2 linked regions of the Homo sapiens genome follow. The protein of the gene in region 1 purifies or fractionates together with the protein of each later gene. This does not show direct contact. Each region holds a gene or a part of one and is shown on either strand. Other genes may lie near its edges.

What was found.
Region 2: the proteins of ABCC8 (region 1) and RAPGEF4 purify together in Homo sapiens (affinity purification with western blotting, with the first as the bait; one study listed by BioGRID). This does not show direct contact.

What each region holds. Positions count from the first base shown.
Region 1 is NC_000011.10:17,470,330-17,474,150, reverse strand, and holds part of ABCC8 (ATP-binding cassette sub-family C member 8), read left to right. Parts: intron 1-3,821. UniProt on the Homo sapiens protein: Regulator subunit of pancreatic ATP-sensitive potassium channel (KATP), playing a major role in the regulation of insulin release.
Region 2 is NC_000002.12:172,738,650-172,742,470, reverse strand, and holds part of RAPGEF4 (rap guanine nucleotide exchange factor 4), read right to left. Parts: intron 1-3,821.

The sequences.
Region 1 (3,821 bases):
GGTGAGAGGAAGGCAGAATTGGGCAAGCTCCATGGTTGAGAGGGCTTTGGAGCGGAGTCTGGAAGGGTGACTAGGCTTCAGACACACAGAGGAGGAAGGAGAGAGAGAACTGGTGGTGCCTGAGGGAAGGGAAAAGGCACCAAAGAGAAAAGCAGGTAGGGCTAGGGAGCAGCGCAGGGGCTGGAGCATTAAACACAGGCTGGGGAGCGATGGAGGCTGAGGCTGGGAACCCAGGTTGGGGCATCTCAGGAGGACTGTGAATCCCAGCCTGCATGTTTGGGTCGGATTTGGTCAGCAGTTTGGAACAGAAGAGAGATGTCATCAGCATAACACTTTTAGGTGGGAACCTGAGGTGTTCAGCGCAGGCTGGAGGCAGGGAGAATCTAGAGGTATAATAGAAGCAGGACTTAGCATTGACTGCAGTAGTCTAGGTGAGCAATAACTGCAGACAGAAATGGTGTGTCAGCAGTCAGGGACAGAAGAGGAGCGGGAGCAGCCATCTCACTAAGGAAGAATCCAGTAACCAGCAAGGATGAGAGACTGCCAGGAGAGGGAGTGGTGGAGGAGAGGGATATTTGGCTTGAGTATCTGAGGTCCAGCGCCCCCTGAGCTGGAATCAGATTATACCCAGACTGCACTCCTGCAGTGCTGCCTGGCTCCTGTAGTTGGATGGCAGGGGATAGGCTCCCTCATCCTCCCTCCCGTTCCCCACCTTCCCTTCCCCAATGTCCCTGCATCCTGGCTTCAGCAGTGATCTCTAAAATACCTGCTTGACTTGGAGGCAGCAGCTCTGCCTGCTTATTAAAGTCCCTAGACCAGCAAGAAGACCAGAAGGCATACTGCTACACAAGCACGTGACAAGTCCGCCTCCACCCCCACCCCTACACCCCTTCCAAAGTAGCACAAATGCCACAGTGAGCCCTCAGATGGGAAATACTCACCAGATGGTGACAGAGAAAGACACCTCCGCCCTTGGAGAAGGAAGACCTGGGTCTTCAGTGAGCACTGCTGCTGTGTACCAGCTATGGGACTTTGCACAAGTCATTCAGGCTTTCTGGGCCTCATAAGCATTTATAAACATACGATAAAACATTTTAGTTGCCAACTTAAAAATGTGTGAGAAAGTATAAGGTGTTTCAAAATTATTTCAAGGAGTAAAGAGGCAAGAGTTTTGAAGATCCCTGGGCAGGGTGTTGGCTGTTCCCAGTGTGGCCATTCATGACTGCTCTCTGGCCTTATGAAACAAGCATCATAGTCCCTGGCTTGCCTGCTTCATGGGGCTGTGGAGGGTGAAATTCGAGCATGGACAGGGTGCAGAGCCCGGAGTGGCAGAGCACTGGGTAGACTGTGTATTCCCAGAATGTGGGAAACTGGAATGAATCGGTCCAGGGATGCCCTCCTGCTGGCTGTCAGCAGCCCCTCCTGTGTGTGGCTGTACTGCTTCAGCTCAGTGCAAAGGGCCATCTCCTCCCCAGGGCACAGATCAGCTCAAGCTGAGTAATTGTCATCTGGTCTTTGTGAGCTCCTACCCCCAGGCCTGAGTGAGGGGCAGGAAAAGAGCAGACAGGAGAAGTCACAGACCCTTGTGATACCTCCAGTCTAATCCAGCCTGGGTTTTCAGAGCTGTCTGGAAATTTAGGGGGCAGGTGGGAGGGGGCTGATTAAGGCAGCCCTGATTTGATTTAGAGTGAGCCTCATTTAGTGACTAATTAAGCCATCTTAAACCTGTAGGGCTTCCCCTCTTCCTTTGGGTATTATTTCTTTCTGTGATGTTCTGAATTCAGAACAATCAAAACAGTATAAGTTAGTGAAGAAGATATTTTTTAATAACTACAATATTTTCCCAGACCACCATACACTGGATAAAGCCTGTATATAAAACTTTACCTAATTTCTTAACTAATTGAATGTGTATTATTTAACAAAGCAGCTAAAAACTATTCTATGAAGCCATGTCATGAAATATTTAGTTCAATTATGGTTAATCCTCATCTTATTTCGTCTTATAAAATTTTAACATTTCTACCTCCTATTGCAAAAAAAAGCATTTATATCAGCATATAATAAAACATGTCTAGATGTCAGCTTAAAAATGTGTGAGAGAGTAGAGGGTGTTTCAAAATTATTTCAAGGAGTAAAGAGGCAAGAGTTTTGAAGATCCCCAGGAAGGGTGTTGGCTGTGCCCAGTGTTGCCATTCATGACTGCTCTCTGGCCTTGTCTGTCTTGTACCTTCTATATTAGTTTGAAGACCTTTTTTGGAGAATATTCACTAAAGAATATCAATATCTACCATTTCATTAAAAAAGAAATGTGGAGTTTGCCTTTTCAAGTTGGTTTGATGCTTATTGATGTTTTCAGGGACCCAGCCTCTTCCCATCTTTCCATACCATCCTGTGTGTGTGTGTCAGCCTATCTTCCCCATGGTCACAAGGTGGCTGCCTAGCTCCGGGTATTGCTTAGCATGAGCAGAGAGGGCATGCTGCCGACATGCCTCTCCTTTATGACAGAGATCATTCTTTCTTTGACATCTCACTGGCCAGAATACGTGGACCAACACTGGCAAAGGAGTATGGAATTGCATGGCTGCTTAAACCAATCACCATCCATTCCCTGGGGCTGGGTATATTGCTGCTGGAGCAAACCTGTGGTCCTCCTGGCACAGAATAAGGGGAAGATACTCTTTGGTGGACAGCCCACATTGCCTCTACACTTGCACCTCAGTCCCACCAGACCCACTGAGGTCACAGGATAGCTCTCCTCATGTCCTTCCTCCTTCTCTGTTGAACTCTTATGTATCCTTCAAAGTCCAGCCTGGTGCCACCTCCTCTGGGAAGCTGTCCTTGGTTGCCCACCCCCTCCTTTGTGCTCTCTCAGTCTCTGTCCATCGGCAGTATCACTTCCCTAGCCTGCTGACTCCAACAGTTAGCTCTGAGCATGGCAGCCCCCTCCATACCATCAGCTTCTCAAGGGCAGGGACCCTTGGCACACTGGATAGAAGTAGCCTGGTGGGCAACAGCAGCACTGAGGCAGCAAGCTGTAGCAGGCCATCTGGGAATGGAGTGGGTACCACAGGGCTGGAGCAGAAAGGGCAGGCTGGGCAGATCTGATAAAGTGGCTGGAGGCCACATAGCCTGGGCCTTTCGTTCCAGGCTGAGCAGAGTGGGTTTTGCTGTCTGCAGGAGGGAGCTGTGGAAGGGCATGATCACGACCAACTAAGGTGACCCTCCTCACCAGGCCCAGGGAAGACTGAGGCCTGGAAGGAGGCTCTGGCTGCCTCTGGGTCTTACCCCCAGGCCACAGTCCACCCACTTAGAGGCCTCTGTGAGTTAAGGTGGAGAGACTATGAGCTGGTATTGACTGCTCCATTCCCCATCCCGAGAGAGGAGACAAAATCAGTGACCTTGGAAATGCCTCTTCGTGCCTCAGTTTCCTCACCCCATAAAATGGGAGACTAAGAGTACCCACTCGATGGGGTTTAATGAAGATTAAATGGGTTAACATATATCGCATGCTTAGAACAGTGCCTGGCACAGAGTAAATGCTCCATAAATACTGACTCTCATCAGTTTGTTATCACAGCCTCTGGGGAGGGCGCCAGTGCTGACTTATGCTGTTCGTGTTAAATGGGGCTGTCACTGGGTGAGTTGTGGCATACAGGCCCCTGCACTGTTCAAGAGACCCCAGCAACCCTTGTGCTTAGGGCTCAGCACATAGTAAGGCCTCCAGATCATATACCCAGCTCTACTCCATGTACTGGCAGCTCTGCCCAGCCCATACCCCAAATACGCCCATTAACTAAAGGGCCCTGCAGCCTATAAAG
Region 2 (3,821 bases), on another chromosome or scaffold:
CAAATACTAATTTACAGGAAATACAGGGGACAAAGGAACATGTTTTAAAAAACTGCATGGAGGTACAATGAAAATTCAGACTGAAAAAAACAACAACAACCCAGTTTCTTCAAGAAATGTATTACAAGGAAGAAAAAGAGAGAAAGAGAGAACCCAGACCTATAGACATATCAACTAAATGCAACTTATTTGGCTCTTGATACAAACAAACTGCAAAAAAGAAAGTTATGAGGTAAATGGGGACATTTGAACACTGACTGAATAATTGATTATATTAGAGAACTAACGTCAAGTTGTTTAATGTGTGTGGTATTGTTTTCTTTATAAAAAGTCACTACCTTTTAGAGACATATACTAAAATATTTACAGATGAAATACATGGGATTTGCTTGAAAATAATCCTGGGGGGAGTGGGGAGCGCGTGAAGGTATAAACAAAACAAGGTTGGCTGTAAGTTGATGATGTTGGAGCCAGGGAAGGGGTGGCACAGATCATACTGGCTGGGCACAGTGGCTTAAGCCTATAGTCCCAGCACTTTGGGAGGCCAAGGTGGGAAGATCACTTCAGCCCAGCAGTTTGAGACCAGCCTGGGCAACATAGGGAGACTCCATCTCTACAAAAAATTTTTAAAATTAGCCAGGCATGGAGATACACATCTGTGGTCCCAGCTACTCAGGAAGCTGAGGCAGGAGGATCGTTTGAACCCAGGAGGTCAAGGATGCAGTGAGTTGTGATCAAACCACTGCCTTCCAGCCTGGGTGACAGAGTGACCCTGTCTAAAAACACACACACAAACAAAAAGAATTAAGAATCATACTGCTATTTCTTCTTTTTGTATATTTTGATTTTTTCCACAATAAAAAGATGTTAGTTTTTTTTTCAAAGGTGGGTGAGGATTTAAGGAGGAAGAATAGATTAGATTAGAGCTATGCAGTGTCATTTTTAAAAAAGTATTCACATTAGCCAAAAAACATAGAAGAAGCAACAGAGGCAGATGTGGATGGTGTCACCCACGCCCTTCCCCAGCAAAGGGCCCAGTGCAAGGGCCTTTTTGGGTTACAGAGGCCACCATCCCTGAGGAGAAGGATGCCTGTGGCCATCTTGCCCTGGGCCCATTAGCACCTTCTCTAGTCAGGGCACTGCACTGAAGCTGAAGATAAAATGATGAATAAAATATAGGGACTAAAGTCAAGTGATGTGAAAAGAGAAGTAAGCAGGCCATTACAATGGAATCGGACTTGTGCTATGTTATTACAGAGTGGGACCAAAGTGTGCTGTGAGAGCACAGGTAATGGTGATCTGACTGGAAAAGGTGGCAGCCACGCTGTCCTGGACGATTCCCAGAACTGCCTTCTCATTATCATCCAATTCCCAGGCTCTGTTGCTCTAGGAAGAGGATGTACTCCTGTACAGGCCAGAAGATGTAAGCATCCTGACCTCCTGGCAGCTTGGCTTCTCATTGTAAATGCAGAAAACGGACTTCTGAGAATAATTGGATTTCCCATATGGCTTACTTAGAGGAAGAATACATTAGCCAAAGGACGTGAGTGTCCACTTCTCTGATGTGACAGATCTTATTGTCAAATTAATAAACTGTCTTTCTGGCTTTTAGAGTCTCTGAGAGTCTGGTACCTGTGTATCTGTTGCTGAAAGATACATTAATTTTTGATGTGCTAACAAGTCAGTATTCTGAGATTGCAAGACCAGCCTGAGCCCTGGAGGATGTACCGGGGTAATGTCATCCCTTGGGACATGGCTAGTAGATACTAGCCTCCTCCAGGGACCCCTTTCTGCTCTGTGTGCTTCTTTGATCCTCTGCATTTCTCAAGGGTGGACCCATGTCTGATGCTTCTTTGATATCTGAGTTATCTTCTCTCACCATGTGTGCTACAAAGCATTTTGGTTCTTAACAAATTTGTTTCTTGATTTCTTTCACTCGAATTCAACCTAATCAAAATAGCTAAAATAACATCTATTTGGGGGCAAGTCAGATGGAAACTGTCCATGGAGTATTTTTAAACTGAAACACGAATACTTAAAAAAAATTCATCTGCTGCCTTTGAAAGATCACAACCTTTTGAATAACCATGTTAACTTCATCATCTGCTTTGGCTGTGACGGCCAGTGTTCCTCAAATAAGCCAATCAACTGAGAACCTTTCTCCAACCTATACTTCTAATTAAAGAACAAGAAACCAAACACTGTGAACTCCTTTCCAAATGAAAACGATTTCTTTCATCTCCAGTGGTTTCACTGTCAATCACTTAGATAGGTTCTTTCATCTATAACAAAAGATGGCAAACTTTTTCTGTAAAGGTCCACATAGTAAATATTTCAGGCTCTGTGGGCCCACAGTCTCCATTGCAGCTACTCAACTCTGCCACTGCAGCGGGAAAGCAGCTGTAGACAATATGTAACCAAATGAGCATGGCTATGTTCCAATAAAACTTTGTTTATAGACACTGAAATTTGAATTTCATCTAAATTTCATGGGTCACAAAATACTGATCTTCTTTTGATTTATTTCCAACCATTCAGGAATGTGAAAACCATTCTTAGCCCACGAGACATACGGGCAAGCTGTCAGATCTGGCCCACAGGCCATAGCTTGTCAATGCCTGTCCCATCATGATGAATGCCAGCAATGAGTCGCTATACTACATGAATGTGTATGGTCCCTGTCCCTTCATAATACTCCTTTACCAACCCTGAGAACTAGGACTTATAAGTGGATCTGAAGTTCACAGTTGGCAAATTTAAAATCTTACGGGAAAAATATTTTCATTAAAATTAAACAATGGGCCGGGTGTGGTGGCTCACACCTGTATTCCCAGCACTTTGGGAGGCCAAGGCGAGCGGATCAGCTGAGGTCAGGAGTCCAAGACCAGCCTGGCCAACATGGTGAAACCCTGTCTCTATAAAAATACAAAAATTAGGCAGGCATGGTGGTGTGTGCCTGTAATCCCAGCTACTCGGGAGGCTGAGACACGAGAATTACTTGAAACCAGGAGGGGGAGGTTGCAGTGAGTCAAGATCACACCGTTGCACTCCAGCCTGGGTGACAGAGTGAGACTCCATCTCAAAAAACAAAAACAAAAACAAAAAAACTTAAACAATGGTCAGCACACTTAAAAAAAAAAAAGAAAGGACATTTTACCTATCTTAAGTCCCAAATAGTGGGAACTATGTAATTTGTTCCTAGTTGCCATCCCCTCAGAAAAAAATGGTAAGATCCCTGAGATAGTGGTGAGCTTGTTTTACTCTAACAATACATCTGCTGAGACTTTTTTCAATGTTGGTTTATCCATCCAAATGTTCAATGTCCTGTCTTTCTGGTTTTAAGATTAGTATTTGTAGACCCTCATCTCCTCAGTCCCACCATAGTCCAAGATGGTGGATGATTGATACATAAAAAGCTATAGATTTTGTTTCTTTAATCTAATCTACATATCTACAACACTTGCAACACCCTTCCCCACTTGCAAATATTGTCCTGTCTATGATAGCTTTCTAGGCATTCCTAACAAACACTTTAAGGCTCTATTTTCCTTGTGTTTTGTTTCACTTCAAATTTCATTGTATACTTCTTTACTACTGCAGACTTTCTCTTTTAACTCTCTTTTTATTTCCAGTCCCAGGGTTTCTCTTTTTTTCACCATCCACAACAGTTGTCACTTGAATGAGGCATATATTTGAACTGTGTTTCCCAGTTACGTCCTTTTCCCAGTTGAAAGGTCCCAGCATCATATTCCCAAGTGAACCCACATGGGTTCATTGTACTTTCTCTTTTGTGCAGGGTTGAAAATGTCCATAATAAAAAA